3 linked regions of the Homo sapiens genome follow. The protein of the gene in region 1 interacts with the protein of each later gene in a biochemical or structural test. Each region holds a gene or a part of one and is shown in the gene's direction. Other genes may lie near its edges.

Region 1 (7,890 bases):
GACAGAGTGAGACCTCGTCTCAAAAAAAAAAAAAAAAAAGTACCTACTTCTTAGGGCTGTTACAAGGATTAAATGAGTTAATCCGTGTCGAGCAGTTAGACTAACGCCTGGGACACAGTAGGTGCTGCATAAAAGTGGTTATTGTTATTGCTGTAATTAAGGTGGATGTGTTCTCATTCCATTGCTGTATAGATTTTTGAACAAAAGCAGATGGAATTAAGGGTAGACTGTTGGGCAGACTGCCAGTGGTAAGGACGCACAGACGTGCCCTATCTCCCCCGCCCCGCCGGTAGAATCTTTTCCTACGAAGATCTTCTAGATTGTACATGGGGACTGGGTTTGGTTTGGTTTGGTTTGGTTTTTTTGAGACAGAGTCTTGCTGTGTCGCCCAGGCTGGAGTGCAGTGGCATGATCTTGGCTCACTTCAACCTCCACTTCCCAGATTCAAGCAATTCTCCTGCCTCAGCCTTCCAAGTAGCTGGGATTACAGGCGCCCACCACCACGCCTGGCTAATTTTTGTATTTTTAGTAGAGACGGGGTTTTGCCATGTTGGCCAGGCTGGTCTTGAACTCCTGACTTCAGGTGATCCACCCACCTCGGCCTCCCAAAATGCTGGGATTTACAGGCATGAGCCACCACACCCAGTCTTAAGCAAGACCTAGCTTTTTTTTTTTTTTTTTTTTTTGAGACAGAGTCTCGCTCTGTTGCCCAGGCTGGAGTGCAGTGGCACCGTCACAGCTCACTGCAACCACCGCCTCCCAGGTTCAAGCCATTCTCCTGCTTCAGGCTCCAGAGTAGCTGGGATTACAGACATGCACCATCATGCCTGGCTAATTTTTATATTTTTAGTAGATACAGGGTTTCACCATGTTGGTCAGGCTGGTCTCGAACTCATGACCTCGTGATCTGCCTGCCTCAGCCTCCCAAAGTGCTGGGATTACAGGTGTGAGCCACCGTACCCAAGGGGGTTATTTTTTAAATAAAATTTTTTATTTTGGAATAATTGTAGATTGACTCAACAGAAAAGTTGCAAAGATAATACGGAGAATTTCTGTATGCCCCTCACTTGGTTTTTTCCATTAACATTTTACATTACTTTGCCACATTTGTCACAACCAAGGCAACATCAGTATGTTACCATTGACCAAATGCCATTCTTGATTCTGACCACACTTGATGCTGATTTTGGTAGTTGTTACTTAATGCCCTTTCTGCTCCTTCCGGATGCCTTCAGGATGCCACGTTATATTTAGGCATCATGGCTCCGCAGCCTCCTCTGGCCTGTGACTGGTTTTAGACTTTCCTTGTCCTTCATGACCTTGACAGTTTGGAAAAATGCTGGTTGGGTATTTTATGGAATGTGCTTCCATTTGGTTTTGTCTCAGACTGGGATTGCGGGATATTGAGAGGATGGCCAGGTAGGATGCTATTTTTTTTTTTTTTTGGCTTTTTTTAGTAGAGATGGGGGGGAGGGTCTTACTATGTTGCCCAGGCTGGTCTTGAATTCCTGATTCCTGGGCTCAAACGATCCTCCTGCCTCACCCTCCCAAAGTGTTAGGATTACAAGCCTGAGCCACTGTGCCCGGCCTGGGTTTTTTGTTTTGTTTTGTTTTTTAATTTTTTTGGTTTTTTGAGACGGAGTTTCACTCTTGTTGCCCAGGCTGGAGTGCAATGGTGCCATCTCGGCTCACCGCAACCTCTGCCTCCTGGGTTCAAGAGATTCTCCTGCCTCAGCCTCCCGAGTAGCTAGGATTACAGGCATGTGTCACCACACATGGCTAATTTTGTATTTTTAGTAGAGACGGGGTTTCTCCATGTTGGTCAGGCTGGTCTCGAACTCCCGAACTCAGGCGATCCACCCGCCTCAGCCTCCCAAAGTGCTGGTATTACAGGCGTGAACCACCGCGCCTGGCCCGGTGTGGGTAATTTTTAATAGCTTGGTCAGTAGGAGAATTGCATTGCTGGCTATGTGCGGTTTATGCTGGCTGCAGAGGTGTCTGGGCAGGGACTCTGCTTCCCCTCCCCACCGTTTTGCCGCCTTTTCTCTCTAGCTATTGGGTCCCACCCACTTCAGCCCAGCCAGACTTAGCAGCTGGACTCAGGGTGAGTGGGTGCCAGTTGGCACCCTTAGCTCTCCAGCCCCTCCCAGCCTGTTCTAGTTCATAGCCGGTCATCAGTGGTTGCCTGCGACCCTTCTCCCCAGATCTTCGAACCCTGAGTCCCCTCGTGTGCACATTCCTGACCCAGGCCTGTGGCCCCTTCAGGACTCATGTCCTGGCCTCCCCCAGCCTCGAGCTCCCCTTCAACTCCTGAGCTGGGGCTTGAAGCAAGGGTGGGGCTACTGGGGACTCTTTTTCGGTGCGGAGGGGCCTGGCTTGGGGAGTGAGGCGGTGGTTGCAGGCAGGTTGCATCAGCCCTGGCTGTTTGACGGGGACGGGGAGTTCGGGGATTCTCTGGGGACCCCAGCACACCTGGCAACCGCTCCCGGTTAGCAGAGCCTTGGATAAGGGAGAACCCCCGCACAGCAAGAGTAGGGGTGGTGTGGAGAGGGAGGGAGATCAGCCACCCGTGCAGGACCCTGAGAATCTGAGGCTCGGTGCCAAGAAGGGGCCTCAGATCACAGAGGCTTGTTAGCAGGAGTCAAGACTGAGGTCCCGAGAGGTAAGGGGGGTTGTGAAAATCACAGTGCCAGTTAGATGGGACCTCAGCCTCCACCATGCTGCACAGCTTCCAGGGCCCCGAGGCCCATGGTGTAGTCTCTGGGAGGTCTCCAAGCCCTGACCCTCACCTCAGGCCTGCTGCTGCTCACAGTTGCCAGACGCTATCGATTCCTGCCTGCACCTGCACCGTGCCATCGCCCTGCTATTGCCGCAACTCCTCACTGCTTTCCCAATCACGGTGGCCTCCTGGCATGATGGAAAAGGCTCCGAGTTTTGCATCAGACAGACCGGGGTTCTGGTCCTGAGCCCAGCACTCAGTTGTAGACTGGAGTGCAGGCAGGGCCCTCATCTGCCGAGCCTCGGCTGCCTTCCGCAGCGTGGGTCAGAGCATGGGCCCTAGAGCCAGCCTGCTGGGTTCACACCCCAACTCCACCACTTCTGTGACCCTCAGCAAGTGGCATCCTCTTTCTATGACTCAGTTTCCCCTCCGTAAAATGGGGATGAGATGGTCCATTGCAGACGGTGGTTTTGAGGATTAAATGTGTAAATGTGCGTGAAATACCTAGAGTGGGGCCTGGCATAGGGAAATGCCCTGTGAGCAGTAGTTCCTGCTCTGGGGCCTGGTGTGGGAGCGCTGTGGAGATGGCATCAGTGAAGCCGGCGGCTGCCAGAGCCCGGGTCTGTGTGTGATTCTCTCTGTTCTCGCCACGCCTGCTTCTGCTTTCAGATCCGCCGTGTGCAGATGTCTGCCTACGTGACTGCTCCCCCGAACGCTTCGAGGGCAAAGTCAGGGCCCTCCTCATTCCCAGAAACGTTCCCCACAACCCCCCGCCCTGTGCTGCTATTTCCGTAGGCATCAATACATTTTCTAATGAGTTGCTCAGCACAGAGGCCAGCGAATGTGATACTGAGGTCCCTGAGAGGAGCCAGGGAGGGTAACTGGGTCACGCAGGCCAGGGGTGCCGGGGTTGAAGGTGGGAGTCCTGGCAAACAAGGGCAGGTAGGCCAAGGCCAGCTCAGTTGGGGAGAGGATGACGCGGGGGCTGGGAGACAGCACAGGCTGCCACGTGGCCCACAGTCCTCCAGAGCCCCTTCCCTCCCTTGTGCCTGCCCTTGTCCCTTCAGTAGAAGCAGTCACAGCTCTTATGCAAAAAAAAAGGGACACAGCAAACTGATAACAACTGACACCAGTGTCCTAGAGCCCAGGATGCCATCACTCACCGCTTAGTGGTCTGGGACAAGATACTGTACCCCCCGACCTGTGGTCACCTCATCAGTAAAATGGGCACAATCATAGAACTACCTTGGGGCAGTGTGGAGGGGCAGGGGGTTGACATGGGAAGAGGCCTGGACCGGTGAACTGCTGACCACCTTGGGCCCTGTGTCAGGCCCAGAGGGAGGGGTGGCTCCCAGAAGCACCTGGGCCCCTGAAAGGCACCGGGGCCGCAGCAACACTGGCAGCGCTGGTGGTGCAAAGCTGCTGGTTTCACGGGAGAAGCTGGAAATCCAGTTTTTTTTTTTTCTGTGAGATCCAAGTTTTAAAGGTAGGCAAGTAATTCAGAAAAACCTGGAAAACCCCAGCAAACCACCAGTGTGGACAGGACTCAGGCTGCTGGCCCTCTGTGACTTCCCCTCCCCACAGCTGTCATCCTCTCTGTCCACAGCAGAGAGCAAAAGGAACCCAGCCCTCATTCCAAGAGTCTCCGAGGATTGAGGCTGGTCCCCTCTGTGCTGGACTTTACAAGCAGTGAGACGGAGTAGGGCTTCATTCCGACACAGCCCGGTCCCATGTGAAGGAGGGGAGGACAGTGTTTCTGGGGAGCAGAGGAGGAGGCCTAAAGAATCCTTCCTGAGGTTCAGGATGCCTGCTGGAAGTGGGGCTGGTGTCTTATTACTCTCTTCCTAATCCCCATGCCCCCAGCCAGAGGCCACCAGGAGCACATTGCTCATTGCGGCAGGAAGACTGTCCCCCACAGGGACTCGCAGGGCACCTCAATAAGGAGGCGTTTGGGCTAACTTGAGGAGTTGGGCTGTGTCAGGGGCAAGCCCATGACTCGCATCTATTTGACCTAGAGCCTGAGAAGCAAAGGGAGCTAGTGCCGCCGGGGTTAGTTGAGAAACAGCCAGCAGCTCTGAGTCAGGAGGGGTGTTTGGTCGTTTCTGTGGTTTGGACATCATGTTGTCTGTGTTGAGGCGTGATTCAGGAGTGGGCTTGTTGTCTTGGTCCCTCGTGGTCGTGGTGGCCTGGCCTGGGGCCCTAGGGCCCTGCCGTCGGGGCTGCTTTCTCGCAGCAAATGCACTCATCCTGCCAAGATGGAAGGGAGGTGAGAGCCACCGCTGTGTCCAGAGGAGGCAGCTCCTGCATTCGTCTGGCCCAGGATATGTGGTTCCTACAGGGTTGCTTGGGCACGGAGGAAAGTACCCGGGCTTGAGCCCAGCCAGCACTCATAGGATGGATGGTCATGGTCGGAGCTGCGGGGAGAGGCAGAGGCGGGGAACCATGGTGGGAGGGCCTCACGGGACCCCTAGGCTCCCTAGGTGCCCCCTCAATGGGCAGAGGGGTACCCCCCATGGAGAGTTTTGAGGTCAGCGGCCATCAGAGCGCCAGGCCTTAGCCCAGTTTGATGCAGACTCCTTTGCCCTCTTCTTCCTGACCTACCACAGAGCAGGAACGTATGGGGGTTGGCGAGCAGCGGACGCCCCTCTCTTCCCTGCAGGCGTCTCAGGCCATCGTCTGCAGCTGGGGCGGGCGGATCATCCTGAATTGGATTTGAGAGTGAAGCCCAGGCTGGTCTGGAAGGTCATGGAGATGGCCCAGGAAGTCTCTGGAGAATGGGAAGGGGGACTGGATGAGGCAGGGGACGGTGATGGTGGTGGCAGTGGGGAGCAAAAAAAGACCATGTTTTGGAGAGGCTCGGTGCGGTTAGGAGCTCAGCTGTGGGGCCAGACACCTGGGCCAGCCCTTACTGGTTGTGGGACTTTACGCAGGTGACTGAAGTCCTCTCCCCTTTCTCAGTTTGCTCATTTATAAATGGGAGCCATGATAGTTTCGCTTCGTCACATTGCTGGGGGAAAGTTAAGTGAGTGAGAACAGGTGAAGCCCTGGAAACAGCCCAGCGCGTGAGAAATGCCATGAAATGTGGGTGTGGAGATGTCCGCCGAGGCAGGAAGGGGCTGTGTTTGCTTCCAGTTCTCATAATGAAAGCCACCCTGCCCCCATCTTCTGGCTGCCTTCACCTGGTTCCCAGAGAAACCTCCATAGCAACCGTCTCCACCACAGCCCGGCCTGGGCCCTTCCCTCCTTCCCCCACCAACATCACTGCCTCTCCCCGGGGAAGCTGATGTTGACAAGAAGAGGGGCTGCGGATGGGGCACAGGTGTGCGCCGTTCCTCCCCCGCCACACACGCCTGTCCGCTGCTCTCAGAGTCCCTCAGCCCTGATGCCTCAGTCCCTCTCCAGGCCTTGATGTCCTGTGCCTGCACCGCCAACCAGAGCGTTTCAGCTCTAGGCTCTTCCCCAGCCTGTTCTCAACCAGCATTACCGGCCACCCCAAGGAAGGCATGGGCCTGCCCTTAGAAACTCTGCCCGAGCCGTTGCCCTCGGGGTAAAGTCAGCTCTGAGCCTGACGCCTATCCGCCTCCACAGCCTCATGGAGGCCTCTCAACCCCTTCCCAGCACCCCCTGGTTGGTTGGTTGGTCGGTTGGTTGGTTGAGTGGCTTTATTGAGATACTGTATAATCCATATCCATTTATCAGTGTCCAACTTAGTGGCTTTAGTACGTTGACAGAGTTGTGCAGCCATCACCACAGTCAATTTTAGAACATTTTCATCACGCTAAAAAGAAACTCCTAGGCCGGGCATGGTGGCTCACGCCTGTAATCCCAGCACCTTGGGAGACCGAGGTGGGCGGATCTCAAGGTCGAGAGATTCATACCATCCTGGCCAACATGGCGAAACCCCGTCTCTACTAAAAATACAAAAGTTAGCTGGGTGTGGTGGCACGCGCCTGTAGTCCCAGCTACTTGGGAGGCTGAGGCAGGAGAATAGCTTGAACCCGGGAGGCAGAGGTTGCGATGAGCTGAGATCACGCCACTGCACTCCAGCCTGATGACAGAGTGAGACTCCGTCTCAAAAAAAAAAAATTAGCTGGTGTGGTGGCACACATGTGTAATCCCAGCTATTAGGGAGGCTGAGGTGGGAGGCCCACTGGAGCCCGGGAGGTTGAGGCTATGAGCGTGATTGCACCACTGCACTCCAGCCTGGGAGACAGAGTGAGACCTTGTCTTAGAAAAAAAAAAATTTTTTTTTAATGCAGTAGGTAGAGGGGAAAAAACTTTCAATACAAGAGTAAGAAATAAAAGTTATTGGCCAAAAAGGAAGAAGCCTTGGCACCAGAGTATTCCTCAAATCTCTTCCAGTCCTTTTATATTAAGAGCAAGCGGTGGTTCTAGAATCTTCCTTAAAATCTCTCTCTGGCTGTTTCCTAACTTTTCCATGGTTGTCTTAGCTGATTCGTTTTTCCTGTGGGGAAAATTGCTGTTGGTCCTGCGACCAGAGCTCCTTTGGTAGCTTCTGGGCCTGGGGAGTGGGAAGGAGAAAGTAGCTGCTAATTAGCCGTCAGGTGACTTCAGGGGAAAGCAGGAGAGAAGGTTGAAAATCAGTGAATCCACAAATCATTTAGCTACTGCCTTGAGGCCATCCTGTGTAGCAAGTGGCAGAGGCAGGATTTTGGTACCCTGGGCAAGTCGCCCCCTCTGAGGGCCTCGGTTTCCTCATCTACCCGGGTGAGGAGAATAAGCCTGCTTAAAACGATTTCTAAGATACATAAAGAACAGTAGAGAACAGTGCATGTAGCAGGCGGCCTTTTGTGTGCAGGTGGGGATAGTGCCAACCACGCTTTTGTTTAAACGCACAGCAAGTCTCTGCAAAGATGTGCAACAGCAGCCTGTCTCCAGGGAGCAGGGCTGGGAGGCTGTGGGACTCAGGGAAGACAGGCCACACTATTCCCTTTTGTACCTTTTGAGCTACAACAATGTGAACATACTACCTATTCACAAAATGAGTTAGTTTGTTTTTTTGAGACCGAGTTTCACTCTTGTTGCCCAGGCTGGAGTGCAGTGGTGTGATCTCGGCTCACTGCAACCTCCGCCTCCCAGGTTCAAGCAATTCTCCTGCCTCAGCCTCCCGAGTAGCTGGGATTACAGGCATGCACCACCATACCTGGCTA
Region 2 (7,000 bases), on another chromosome or scaffold:
AAGTGTAAGTAGACAGAAAGGAGTTAAAGAATCTATGTGTATCTCAAGTAGAAAACCTAGTACTGGTCCTTTCTTTAGATAGTCTTTAAAAGTTTGGTAGAAGGTATAAAAGGCATTGTATTGGGTCTGCTATTCAGCCTTACTTATCATTCCCTTCTTTTCTCTTTCTCTCATTTCTAGATTCCTTATGGCAGAAAGTATGACAAGGCATGGCTCCTGAGCATGATTCAGAGCAAGTGCAGTGTGCCCTTCACCCCTATTGAGGTAAGACAAGGCCTGAGTGGCTGGCTGGCCAGGCACCAGGGATGGTGAAGGGGCAAGCTGGACTCCCAGCGTAATGCCCCTCCCCAAGGGCTCTGGACTCCCAGTGTAATGCTCCTGTTTCCTCTTGTAGTTTCACTATGAGAATACACGGGCCCAGTTCTTCGTTGAAGACGCCAGTACTGCCTCTGCATTGAAGGCTGTCAACTATAAGATTTTGGATCGGGAGAACCGAAGGGTGTGTTTAAAGGGCCTGGCTTGGCTGGAGGTGGAGGTTGGTGCTCAGAGCAGGGACTGGGTCTTGTTCTTGCGGCTTAGGCTTCCCTAGAGTTTTCTGTGCCCTCTGTGTCTTCCCTCCAGATATCTATCATCATCAACTCTTCTGCTCCACCCCACACTATACTGAATGAACTGAAGCCAGAACAAGTAGAACAGCTAAAGGTGAGGCAGGCTCAAATTAGATGTTTCCAACCCAGTCTTACTACTTCTCACACCCCCACCCCCCACACACAAACCCAGTGACCACTAAACCCTTCTTTTTCCTCTAGCTGATCATGAGCAAACGATACGATGGCTCCCAACAAGCCCTTGACCTCAAAGGCCTCCGTTCAGACCCAGGTATGGTTGACAGCAGTAGTTCTCAGATAGGTGGTGATAAGGTGGGATCTGTCAGGGAGGGAAAGTTTGAGGATGTTTTACTGCTAATGCTGGCATGGGCAAACCCTCTCAGTCTTCCCTTTCCTTCCCTTCTGCTTCCTGAAGATTTGGTGGCCCAGAACATTGACGTTGTCCTGAATCGCAGAAGCTGTATGGCAGCTACCCTGAGGATCATTGAAGAGAACATCCCTGAGGTAAGGCCTTTGGCCCAGTATTAGGCATGAGGAAGCAGGGTGTGTTAGATAGGAAGTGGCTGGAGGGCAGATTCGTCTCTGATCCACTTGCTGGTGGTGCCTCCTCTAAACTCTTCTCTCCTCACAGCTATTGTCCTTGAACTTGAGCAACAACAGGCTGTACAGGCTGGATGACATGTCTAGCATTGTTCAGAAGGCACCCAACCTGAAGATCCTAAACCTTTCTGGAAATGAAGTGAGAATTGATAGCTCGGCTATATTTTTGAAGGGGTGGGTAGAGGGTGTAGAGAGTTTGTCCAGTGATGGCAAGAGGCAAGAGAGAGAACTCAGGCCAGATGTGCTGGTTTGCAACTCTAATCCTAACACTTTGGGAGGCCAAGGCAGGAGGATCACTTAAGGCTAGGAGTTTGCACGCCTCTAGTCCAAGCTGCCCCAGGGGGCTGAGGTGGGAGGATTGCTTGAGCTCAGGAGTTCAAGGCTGCAGTGAGTTATGATTGTGCCGTTGCATTCTAGCCTGAGCAACCTGTCTCAAAAAAATTTTTTTAATTTAAAAAATAAATTAGTCGAGCATGATGTCACATGCCTGTAGTCCTAGCTACCCAGGAGTCTGAGGTGGGAGGATCTCTTGAGTCCAGGAGTTTGAGGCTGCAGTGAACTATGATCATGCCACGGCACTGAACTTGGGTGACAGAGTGAGACCCTGTCCCAAAAAAAAAAAAAAAAGAAAAAATTTTAAAAGATTAGAAAAGATCTCAGAGCTAAGCGTAGGGACTGGGGGTATGGGGAGCCAGCTGGCTGTCTTCACCAGGGTCTCCTCCCTTTGTTCCTTCCACCCTTTGCAGTTGAAGTCTGAGCGGGAATTGGACAAGATAAAGGGGCTGAAGCTAGAAGAGCTCTGGCTCGATGGAAACTCCCTGTGTGACACCTTCCGAGACCAGTCCACCTACATCAGGTCAGTTGTAGCCTGTGTCTCCCCTCCTGGGGACCTTCACCCCCTGGGAGGCTGAGCTAATGCATCCTGACCAGGGCCCGTCTGCGGAGATGTGCAGCCCTGAGCTGGAACCACCTGTCCTTTGAGAGGATCGCGTGCTCCCCACTTTGGTCTGTCTGTGTCTTCCAGCTTTGTCCTGAGATGTTCTCTCTTCTCTTCTGACTTGACTATCTGTTTGCTGGGTCTGTGGCCTTTCTCTTTCTTCCTGAACACAACCTTTTCTAGAATCTCCCTACCCTGTTGTTCCAGGAAAGGCATCTCCCCTTTCTACTCTAACCAGAGGGTATCTTGTACATACCCTATAGATGGGGTTGCCTTGTGCCAAGAGCCTGGTGTCCATGGGTTGAGGAAGCCCTCCCTACCTGGGACTTCCTACTGAGATGGGCCTTCCCTCCTTTGTACTGTGATGGCCCCTCTTGCCCTTGCGCCAAGAGGGACCCTTTTCTCAGGATCCACTTGCCCAGGGCTGTTGCTGTCCATGCTGAGGTTGAGGCCTCCTAGGGGCTGGTGGCATGCAATCTGTCTCTCTTGCCCAGTGCTATGAGCTGGGCTCTCCCTGAAGAAGAAACCTGGGTTCCCCAAGATGTGACCAGAGCTGGGGCCCCGCCAGCAGGCGAGGGAATCCCAAGGCAGGTGCTGGGCGTGGAGGCCACGGGGGCATAGGCTACCAAGGAGACAGAGAACTGACCCCCTCGGGGGCGCTGCCTCTCCCTCACTCACACACTGCACGTCACCCTGTTTGGCCCCGGTGGATGGCTGGTTAGCCAGAGACGGGTAAGATTCCTCAGGGAAGGAACAACCTAAGACAGGCACAGTCGCAGAGGGGCCATCAGGAGAGAACTTGGGGGCAACAGAGGTGGGGCATGGACCCTCACCCCCACAATCCTACAGGGGCCTGAACCCTCACACCTTCTGAGGGAGGTCTCCTGCCCCCATGGCTGCTTTGCTTCCCACGCCCAGTTCAGATCGGGACCCAGGTAGCAGACAGAGACCTGGCCAACAGCAAGTGCCCACTCACCACAGCAAGGATTTGTTTCTCATTTCTACCTTGGACCACAGGGATGGGGCAGCTGAAAGAAAGGGCTGTGTCAGGGTGTCTTTCTCCCTTTTCTCCCTCATTTTTCTAGATGCTTTTTTGCCTTGTAGTTCTTTCTCTTTTTCTTTGCTTTCTCTTTCCTTTTTCTGTCTGTCTCCTATACCTCCCCATCTCTCCCTTGCCCCTGCCCCATCTTGCCTTTTTCTCTTTTTCCTCCTTTTCCTTTCTTATTCCTTTGCCTCTCCTCTTCCTGAGCCCCACCTGCTCATCTCCCTGCCCCAACATCCTGTGCCATCCCTGTGGTGTGTTTGGGTCTTGGCCAAAGCCAGACCTGGCAGAACTGATGGATACCTGGTGAGGCAGCGGAGCCCCTGGGCTCCCACCCCATTCCCTCCTCCCGGGGCTGCACAGGTGAGTAGGTGGAAGGTAAGGGGGGCAGGGAGGGGAAAGAGGTCCTGGGCTTAAAGCCTGGGCTTGGAGTACTGCTCCTTGACACTCAGGGTCAGGCAGAGAGAAAAGAGACAGCCTTCAAGGCAGTCCATGTCTGGGTGCCCCGGGTCAGGTGGGGAGTGGGGGCCATTTTTCCCTGAGCACAGGCTGGGAGGGAGTGGAGGGATGAGCAGGATGGGATGGGCTGTCCCTCGGGTTTGGTATATTTGCTCCTAGAGCAGCCCAGGAGGCACGGTGGCTCTGAAGCATCACTCACTTCTGTCCCGTTCTTGACAGCGCCATTCGCGAACGATTTCCCAAGTTACTACGCCTGGTAAGTCCATAATTTTTTCATTCTAACAAGCACAGCATCTCTCACTCACAAGGATTCCTGGATAGGTTTCTTTTTCTTTTTCTTTTTCTTTTTTTTTTTTTTATTTGAGACGGAGTTTCACTCGTCGCCCAGGCTGGAGTGCAACAGCATGATTTCAGCTCACCGCAACCTCTGCCTCCCAGGTTCAAGCGATTCTCCTGCCTCAGCCTCCTGAGCCCAAGTAGCTGGGATTACAGGCATGTGCTACCACACCTGGCTAATTTTTGTATTTTTAGTAGAGACAGGGTTTCACCATGTTCGCCAGGCTGGCCTTGAATTCCTGACCTCAGGTGATCCACCTACCTCGGCCTCCCAAAGTGCTGGGATTACAGACGTGAGCCACTCGCACCAGGCCCTTTTTTTTTTTTTTTTTGGATGGAGTCTTGCTCTGTTACCCAGAGTGCAGTGGTGCAATCTTGACTCACTGCACCGTTTGCCTCCTGGGTTCAAGTGATTCTCCTGCCTCAGCCTCCTGAGTAGCTGGGATTACAGGCATGTGCCACAATGCCCGGCTAATTTCTTTGTGTATTTTTAGTAGAGATGGGGGTTTCATCTTGTTGGCCAGGATGGTCTTGAACTCCTGACCTCAACTAATCCATCCACCTTGGCCTCCCAGTGTGCTGGGATTACAGGTGTGAGCCACTGCGCCCAGCCTGGATCCCTGGATACTTTTCATGATGCGTTTACACTTGACTTCTGACCCTTCTCTCTTAGTTCTTCAGTCTACTTATGCACCCAGCCTTTTTCTCTCTGGTTTAAACTGTCAACTTTCTTTTTTGTTTGTTTTGTTTTTTGAGACAGGGTCTGGCTCTGTCATCCAGGCTGGAGTGCAGTGGCACAATCGTAGCTTACTGCAACCTTCGCCTGCCAGGCTCAAGTGATCCTCCCACTTCAGCCTCCCAAGTAGCTAGGACTCCAGGCACGCACCACCATGCCCAGCTAATTTTTGTATTTTTTTTGGTAGAGATGGGTTTTGCCACGTTGTCCAGCCAGGCTGGTCTCAAACTCCTGAGCTCAAGCCATCTGCCTGCCTCGGCCTCCCAAAGTTCTGGGATCACAGGTGTGAGCCACTGGGCCCAGTCTACACTGTCAACTTTTACTTCCTTTCCACAGGATGGCCATGAGCTACCCCCACCAATTGCCTTTGATGTTGAAGCCCCCACGACGTTACCGCCCTGCAAGGTAGGAAGCATGGACAGAGTAAGAACTTGTGTGTGGAGAGAATACTGCTTCCATGTTCCTAATACCTGTTTGATTTCAGGGAAGCTATTTTGGAACAGAAAACTTGAAGAGTCTGGTCTTGCACTTCCTGCAACAGTAAGTATCCCAGGGTCCCCCCTCCCCACCCCGAGGTTGAGGGGGAATGGTGGGCAGACCCAGGCACACATCAATCTTTTTGTTTTGTTTTTTGTTTTGTTTTTTTTTTTTTTTTTGGACAGTGTCTCACTGTGTCACCCAGGCTGGAGTGCAATGGTGTGATCTTGGCTCACTGCAACCTCTGCCTCCCAGGGTTCAAGTGATTCTCCTGCCTCAGCCTCCCCAGTAGCTGGGACTACAGGTGTGTGCCACTGCACCTGGCTAATTTTTGTATTTTTCGTACAGATGGGATTTCACTATGTTGGCCAGGCTGGTCTCCAACTCCTGACCTCATGATCCACCTGCCTCTTCCTCCCAAAGTGTTGGGATTAGAGGCGTGAGCCACCGCACCTAGCCATTTTTTTTGTATTTTTAGTAGAGACAGGGTTTCGCCATGTTGCCCAGGCTGGTCTTGAACTCCTGGGCTCAAGCTATTCACCCATCTCAGCCTCCCAAAGTGCTGGGATTACAGGCATGAGCTTCCATGCCCGGCCACAACTCACTCTTGGGAGCTACTGGGTCCTTGTATGGCTGTAGACCACAGAGCCCATACTTTCTTTTTTGTTTTTCCCATAGGTACTATGCAATTTACGACTCTGGAGACCGACAAGGGCTCCTGGATGCCTACCATGATGGGGCCTGCTGTTCCCTGAGCATTCCTTTCATTCCTCAGAACCCTGCCCGGTTAGTATCACATCCCAGAATCTGCCCGGGACCACTGGGTTTCCCAGCAGATACAGGGCACACCTGCTGGCAGCACTGCTCTGAACACCACGTCCATTCCTTTTATTCCCCCAGAAGCAGCTTAGCCGAGTATTTCAAGGATAGCAGAAATGTGAAGAAGCTTAAAGACCCTAGTAAGTGTGTGATACGAACAAAATATGGGAAAAGGGCATGGGAAGGAATCAGTCAGAACTCAGGAGTGTGTGGCAGCACCACTGAGCTTTCTCCTCTACCCACAGCCTTGCGGTTCCGGCTGCTGAAGCACACGCGTCTCAACGTTGTTGCCTTCCTCAATGAGTTGCCCAAAACCCAGCACGACGTCAATTCCTTCGTGGTAGACATAAGCGCCCAGACAGTAAGCTCCTGCTTGCGCCTGACAGAAGCCTAGAATTGGGGTGGGGGTGGCATTTAATAGGCAAGGGGGGGCACTCAGGCTCTGAGAAGTGTACATTGTACCTGATGCTGCTTCTCTTTCAGAGCACATTGCTGTGTTTTTCTGTCAATGGAGTCTTCAAGGAAGGTAAGAATCTTTAGAGTCCCGAGTTTGTAGCGTGGTCCCACCCCCAGCTGGAATTTTCCTCAGCACTCTTAGCTTCCCAGCTACTTTCTCTCCCATTTTCTTTTTGAGCTCCTTCTCCCATTCTGCCCCCAAGCCGTCTTGGCTTGGCCTACCTCTCCACCTGTCCTGTCTGGATGTGGGAAAAGCCTGGGGATTAGGAGGACTTTGGAGTCAGGCAGTTCTTAGTTTCCATCCTAGTTTTGGTTGTGCGGGGCTGTGGACAAGTAACATTACCTCTAAGACAGATTCTTTATTTGTAAGATGGGGTTAGTAATAGCCGTCTCATAGTGGTGCTATAGGAAGTAAACTGAAGTGACTTACAAAGTGCTTGGCCTGGGGCCTGGCATACAGATGCTATCAGTGGATTAGTAGTTATTACTTTTTTTTGAGATGGAGTCACACTCTATCACCAGGCTGGAGT
Region 3 (7,000 bases), on another chromosome or scaffold:
TGGTTCCTTCCAGATGTATAGCTCATTTGTGTTGGCAGCTTGAATGGTTTTGGTTTTTTTATTTTGAAAACCAAAAAACTCTTGGTTTTTCATTAGGTTATTCAAGCCTAGCTCAGTCAGATTTGGTTCCCAGCTATAGTTCACTTGGCTAAAAATAAAGCCTTGAATTTGTACCGTCATCTTTTGAAACATTTGCTGTTTGACCTAATGTCAGTGACATTAGTTGAAACAAACGAGTGAGGAAGGAATGTTTGATGGGAGAAGTCAGGTTGGTTTGATTTTATCAAGTTTATTTCTAGGTCATCTGTAAATAGGTAGGATATAGGAAGGGTTGCTTTTTGTTTGTTTTATGAATAAGAGCTCTAAGGTGATAGGGCCTTCTCTAAAGCTGAAGTAATTTAACTATCATTCCAGTAAGACTGGACTATGGCGGCTACCAGCAGGGATTTGTCAGACAGTAAGACAAATGAAATTGAGAGGACATGACCTTCTGCACAACGGAGGATCAGCTCACGTTTGTTCTGAATTGAGAAACAGGAGAAATGTTAAAATGTATTGCTGATGATTGGTACTGTCAATGTTTTTGTGTATAAAATACATTTGGCATTCCCAAAATTAAAAAATATCAAGGGACTTAATTGATTTTAAAAAGAAAAGGTATAGTGTTCTGATTGGGAGATTTGGAATCAACTGATCTTGAACTCTTACTCATTTCACAGAATGTTCTTCGGAAAGTGCAACATCAAGATGCTTTGCAGATCTCTGATGTGGTTATGGCCTCCCTGTTAAGGATGTTCCAAAGCACAGCTGGGTCTGGGGGAGTACAAGAGGATGCCCTGATGGCAGTTAGCACACTGGTGGAAGGTCGGTGAGAAATACTGTCTGGTCAGGGAATGTCTTTGGAATGTAGGCATTTCAGTGGCCTTAAATAATTGTCACCCAGGCTGGAGTGCAGTGGCACGATCTTGGCGCACTGCAGCCTTGAAATCGTGGGCTCACATGATCCTTCCACTTCAGTGCCCCCACAGTAGCTGGGACTAACAGATGCACACCACCATGCCCAGCTAATTTTTATATTTTTGGTAGAGATGGAGTTTCGCCATGTTGCCCAGACTGGTCTTGAACTCCTGAGTCAAGTGATCCTCCTGCCTCAGCCTCCCAGAGTGCTAGGATTATAGATGTGAGCCACTGGGCCCAGCTTAATTTTGTTTGTGTGTGAAGATAGGGTCTCACTATATTGCTCAGGCTGGTCTCAAACTCCTGGGCCTCCTTGTCAGAGCATTAAAGAATTTTTGACTATAGAAAGCATAGTCCTTTTACTGGGGCATGAGTCACTTCAAAGTTAGATTGAACTTAAGTGCACACCACTTAAATTTGTATAACTGCCTTGTCAGTCCATTTAAATGGGGAGCCAGTTTGCAACGGAGATTGGCAGAGGTGTTGTTTTTTTTTTGTTTTTTTTTTTTGTTTGTTTTTTTTTTGAGACTTGTTCTGTTGCCCAGGATGGAGTGCAGTGGCACCATCTTGGCTCACCACAGCCTCCACCTCCCAGGTTCAAGCAATTCTCCTGCCTCAGCCTTCTGAGTAGCTGGGATTATAGGCATGAGCCACTGTGCCCTGCTAAAAGTTTCTATTTTCTTTCCTGGTACTTGTCATCACCTGGTTTGGTTTGTAGTGCTTTGGACTAAGATTGACACATCATGGTGCCTGGTATGGGATGAAATGAAACATTGAGCGAGTTCTAGGAATTGATTTTCTGATTTTTACATGTCTGACTGCAAAATTGGTTTGGGGAAGCCATATCTGACTTAAGACTCTTTGAAGGGGCATTACGAAGCACTTTAGGAATCTGATATGCCTTTTCAGGGGTGGCCTGTAAGTACATTGCTAAGGCCATTTACCTGAGGACCACTCTCCTGAGGACTAGACCTATTTTTGGCATAAACAGCCTATGTCCAACTGGTCTGTCAACATGTGACCACTCCTCTGAAAGGGCAAAGAAGTTAATTTTGGCTCCTGGAGTGGCTGATTTGGATCTGAAGCCCAGTGCTGCTTTTCCTGGCTGTGGCTTGTTTAGCCCTTGATGGAATTGCCTAAGGACCCTGTTTTGAAGCTGGCTTGCAGAAAGGACATGCTATTATCAGATGAGGAGGTGGACAAGAGTCAGTATTGCTGGTTCAGCCCATTTAAAATTAACCTTGACATTCCTTGAGGGTCATACCACTTGGTTGTATTAGTCAGAGTAAAGCCCTATTCTGTGGACAGTGGGCATTGTCTCTGTGGCGTATGAATTAGGGCCCTTCCAGCAGTAATAAATTTGGCTTATGCAAGCCTTTAATGTCTTCATGATGGAATCGGTAACTAAAGCACATTTCACCCAACCTGTTGAGTGGAGCGAGTACATTTTGGGAGAGGTAGGATGGGTTATTTCTGCCTGCCTCTGTGTTAACCCGTGGTGCTGTCATTGGCTAATAGCTTATTTCATTACAGTGTTGGGTGGTGAATTCCTCAAGTACATGGAGGCCTTTAAACCCTTCCTGGGCATTGGATTAAAAAATTATGCTGAATACCAGGTAGGATGTGCTTTTCAAAATAGTATGTTCCCATTTATATCTGACAGTCACTGTAGTGCACGCAAAACCAGGTTCTTATAGCTTAAGTAGTTTTTCCTGATACATTGTCCTAAAAGGCAAGCTACTTTATTCATTGCCTGAACGTTTGAACTGGAAGTAGTCCATGAAAAACAGGATATTAGATGTACCAGATAACGGTGGACAAGATATTAGATGTAACAGATAATGGTGGACAAGATGACTGTTTATTTGCTTAGACAGTACTAATGCAGGAGCAGCTATAAAGTTGAGCTATTAGCACCCTGGAGAGCAAGGCTTTTTTTTTTTTTTTTTTTTTAACTTTATCAGTGATCTCTCTCGGATAGTCTTTGTTCCCTGCCTGCCATGTTGGTTGTTGAAAAATTAATCTCGGCAGAGGGATTTAACTCTAGGTTCAAGTGATAAAAGCTCAGCAGCTAGTTAAAAATAATATCTTGCCCCAGCAGGCAGCCTTTTCTGTTAGAAGATTATTTCCTTGATTCTTGGCAGGTTTGTTTGGCAGCTGTGGGCTTAGTGGGAGACTTGTGCCGTGCCCTGCAATCCAACATCATACCTTTCTGTGACGAGGTGATGCAGCTGCTTCTGGAAAATTTGGGGGTGAGTATCTACACACAATCTAATTAACCAGTCTTCTTTGAAGAAAACAACAGTTGGAAAGATAGTTAAATATCGACCAGGCTGGGCGCAGTGGCCTGTAATCCCAGCATTTTGGGAGGCCGAGGCAGGCCAGGAGTTCGAGACCAACCTGGACAACATGGTGAAACCCCGTCTGTACTGTAGATACAAAAAAAATTAGCCGGGCGTGATGGCAGGCGCTTGTAATCCCAGCTACTCGGAAGGCTGAGGCAGGATAATCGCTTGTACCCGGGAGGTGGACGTTGCAGTGAGCCAAGATCACGCCATTGCACTCCAGCCTGGGCAAGAAGAGCCAAACTCCGTCTCAAAAAAAAAAAAAAAAAAAAAAAATCAGTGACAGGGAGCTGTAAGTTTCTAGAACATTGGCTTTGGGCTTATAAAGAGGGGAGTTGTTCATTTCACAGATGACTCTGAAGAAAGATTGTAAAGTTAAAGGAATGTGTGCTCTATTAGAGATTTTTAAAACAAAACAGTAAAATGCAAAGGAAAAGTAAATACAGTTGTTCCTTGACTTATGATGGAGTTAGGTCCCAATAAACACATTGTAAAGTGGAGAAATCATCAAACCATCATGAGCAGGGGACCATTTGTATATTATACCTCTCTCCAGAGATAGCCATCATTAATTATTGTACATGTGTGTTCTCAGACAAGTCACTTGATTCTTAAGTCAGTCTCCTCATGTGTAAAGTGGGAATACCAATACCTGGGCTAGCTTCTTAGAGTTGGTGTGAGGTGCAAATGGGAAAGGTTTTGTAAGCTATAAAGGACCATCCAAATATTTAAAATCAATAGTTGCTTGTTAGAAATGAAATTTTCATGAATCTTTGGACCAAACAAGTTTTGACTTAATTCACTTTTCCTTTTGTTCCTTGTCAGAATGAGAACGTCCACAGGTCTGTGAAGCCGCAGATTCTGTCAGTGTTTGGTGATATTGCCCTTGCTATTGGAGGAGAGTTTAAAAAATACTTAGAGGTTGTATTGAATACTCTTCAGCAGGCCTCCCAAGCCCAGGTGGACAAGGTAAGCTTAAAGCTATCTTGGCTGTTCTTTAAGTCTAGCTCTAATTGGAGGGACTATTGACAAACATGCAGCTAAAAGTGATCAGTGTGATGTAGGTTCTGTTCTTTGTGTCTTACAGTCAGACTATGACATGGTGGATTATCTGAATGAGCTAAGGGAAAGCTGCTTGGAAGCCTATACTGGAATCGTCCAGGGATTAAAGGGGGATCAGGAGAACGTACACCGTTGAGTATACAACCCAGTTCCCTTCGTCCGCTCGCCAATGTGCACTTAGCCAAGTGGGCTATGTCTGTCATTCTGTAGCTCGCTTGTGAACCTAGTGCCTGTTGCTTAAAAGGCTGGGAGAAGGGGGAGCAGTGCCCTAATGAAGAGAGTGGCTTGGGGAAAACTGTAGACTACTGTTTTTGCTCTGCTTCTTCTTTCTTTTTTTTGTTTTGAGACGGAGTCTCACTCTGTTGCCCAGGCTGGAGTGCAGTCGTGCAATCTCGGCTCACTGCAACCTCCACCTCCCAGGTTCAAGCAGTTCTCCTGCCTCAGCCTCCTGAGTAGCTGGAACTATACACATCTGCCACTATGCCTGGCTAATTTTTATATTTTTAGTAGAGGCAAGCTTTCACCTTGTTGGTCAGGCTGGTCTTGAACTCCTGATCTCAATTGATCCACCCGCCTTGGTCTCCCAAAGTGCTGGGATTACAGGCTTGAGCCACTGTGCCCAGCCTTTTAAATTTATTTTATTTTATTTTTATTTTTTGGAGACAGTCTCACTCTCACCCAAGCTGGAGTGCAGTGGAGCGATCACAGCTCACTGCAGTCTTCACTTCCTGGGTTCAAGTGATTCTTATGCCTCAGCTTCCTGAGTAGCTGGGACTACAGGCACACACCACCATGCCCAGCTATTTTTTTTTTTTTTGTATTTTAGTAGAGATGGGATTTCACCATGTTTTGCAGGCTGCTCTCGAACTCCTGAGCTCAGGCAATCTCCCACCTTGGGCTCCCAAAGTGATGGGATTTCAGGCGTGAGCCACTGCACCCAGCCCTCTGCTTCTTTTTCTCATATTTCTTGAGTATTACAAGGGATGGGATTCAGCAAAAATGTTGGGGGGAAGAAACCCAACATAAATGCTTCCTGTATCAACCATGAGTGGCAGGTCCCCTACCCCTTTCCCATCCCCACAAGCTAAATTGGAGGACTGGGGAGTCATAATTCCCGTTACGTGTTCTTGTTGCTGATTGGGGAAATTTTTTACTTCACCCCCCTTGGTATCATTAGCTCAGGAAAAAGTTAAATTTGTTTCTTCTATATTTGCCTATAGGAAGAGGAATATTTGTCTCTTCTGTCGACTTGAGGAACGACACATTAATCAAAGGAAGAATAATTTGATATAACTATATGCATCTAGTTATCCAGCTTGGACCTTGTATGATAGGGGTATAATAGTTGGAAATTTTGAAAAAGGATGTAGTCCTGCCATATGAGGGACAGCTGCATCAGACCTTCTCTCTCTTTTTTTTTTCTTTTTTTTTTGAGATGGAATCTTGCTCTGTCGCCTAGGCTGGAGCGCAGTGGCGCAATCTCGGCTCACTGCAAGCTCCGCCTCCTGGGTTCACGCCATTTTCCTACCTCAGCCTCCTGAGTAGCTGGGACTACAGGCGCCCGCCACCACGCCCGGCTAATTTTTTTGTATTTTTAGTAGAGACGGGGTTTCACCGAGTTAGCCAGGATGGTCTCGATCTTCTGACCTTGTGATCCACCCGCCTGGGCCTCCTAAAGTGCTGGGTTTACAGGCATGAGCCACCGCACCCGACCAATACCTTCTCTCTCTTTTATAGCGGATGTGATGCTGGTACAACCCAGAGTAGAATTTATTCTGTCTTTCATTGACCACATTGCTGGAGATGAGGATCACACAGATGGAGTAGTAGCTTGTGCTGCTGGACTAATAGGGTAAGTTATACCCTGCTTCTAAGAGCTGAATAGAACTTCTCACAGAAAATGAGAAAACATGGAGTAAGGAGTTTTGAGAGTATCGCGGATGGCAACAGTTCACTTTTTTGGCACAGAGATTTCTTTGCAGAACGCTTCATGTCCTGTTTTGAGTGTTCACATGATAGTTTATTCCAGACCCTCAAGGTGTCTGTATTACACCCCATTAAACTCTGATGTTGGTCAACAATTGCCTCTGTCTAGTGACCTCTACTGAGGGTTTTATTTATCTTTGAAATTTGCTAAGAAACCCATAGCACTGGTTTGGAAGGCTCAAAACATTATACTGGTATGGGGCTAGGAGCTCATTCTCAGCTGTGTTTGTTTTGCACAGGGACTTATGTACAGCATTTGGGAAGGATGTACTGAAATTAGTAGAAGCTAGGCCAATGATCCATGAATTGTTAACTGAAGGGCGGAGATCGAAGACTAACAAAGCAAAAACCCTTGCTACATGGGCAACAAAAGAACTGAGGAAACTGAAGAACCAAGCTTGGTAAGATCTTGCCTCCACTGTCCTCTTTCTTCTACTTCCTGGAGGAGGGGGGTATGTTTTCTTTAGGCCATTCTGGCAAGCACTGCCTTCTGGCATTTTTTTTGTTTGTACTTTTTCCCATGTAGGTGCTTCTGAGTCAGGCAGCCTCAGTTTTTCCTTGAGCCAAATGTTTGACTCCTCATAGTGATGGAGAGCAGAACTTTTAAAACTGGAATTCACTGAAATTCCCTGAGTATTTTGGGTCCTAAT

The links. Proteins that work in one complex are often made in the same cells at the same time.
Region 2: the proteins of NUP62 (region 1) and NXF1 form a complex in vitro, tested with the Homo sapiens proteins (3 studies listed by BioGRID and IntAct).
Region 3: the proteins of NUP62 (region 1) and KPNB1 form a complex in vitro, tested with the Homo sapiens proteins (2 studies listed by BioGRID).

The regions. Positions count from the first base shown.
Region 1 is NC_000019.10:49,919,005-49,926,894, reverse strand, and holds part of NUP62 (nuclear pore glycoprotein p62), read left to right. Parts: intron 1-7,890. UniProt on the Homo sapiens protein: Essential component of the nuclear pore complex. The N-terminal is probably involved in nucleocytoplasmic transport.
Region 2 is NC_000011.10:62,795,441-62,802,440, reverse strand, and holds part of NXF1 (nuclear RNA export factor 1), read left to right. Parts: intron 1-180; coding exon 181-264; intron 265-394; coding exon 395-499; intron 500-621; coding exon 622-702; intron 703-809; coding exon 810-879; intron 880-1,023; coding exon 1,024-1,112; intron 1,113-1,239; coding exon 1,240-1,347; intron 1,348-1,954; coding exon 1,955-2,064; coding exon of another isoform or gene 2,065-2,119; exon of another isoform or gene 2,120-3,865; coding exon 3,866-3,902; intron 3,903-5,054; coding exon 5,055-5,123; intron 5,124-5,202; coding exon 5,203-5,258; intron 5,259-5,873; coding exon 5,874-5,981; intron 5,982-6,095; coding exon 6,096-6,154; intron 6,155-6,259; coding exon 6,260-6,375; intron 6,376-6,497; coding exon 6,498-6,540; intron 6,541-7,000.
Region 3 is NC_000017.11:47,673,919-47,680,918, forward strand, and holds part of KPNB1 (importin subunit beta-1), read left to right. Parts: intron 1-719; coding exon 720-864; intron 865-2,490; coding exon 2,491-2,573; intron 2,574-3,101; coding exon 3,102-3,209; intron 3,210-4,127; coding exon 4,128-4,271; intron 4,272-4,389; coding exon 4,390-4,495; intron 4,496-6,101; coding exon 6,102-6,216; intron 6,217-6,589; coding exon 6,590-6,751; intron 6,752-7,000.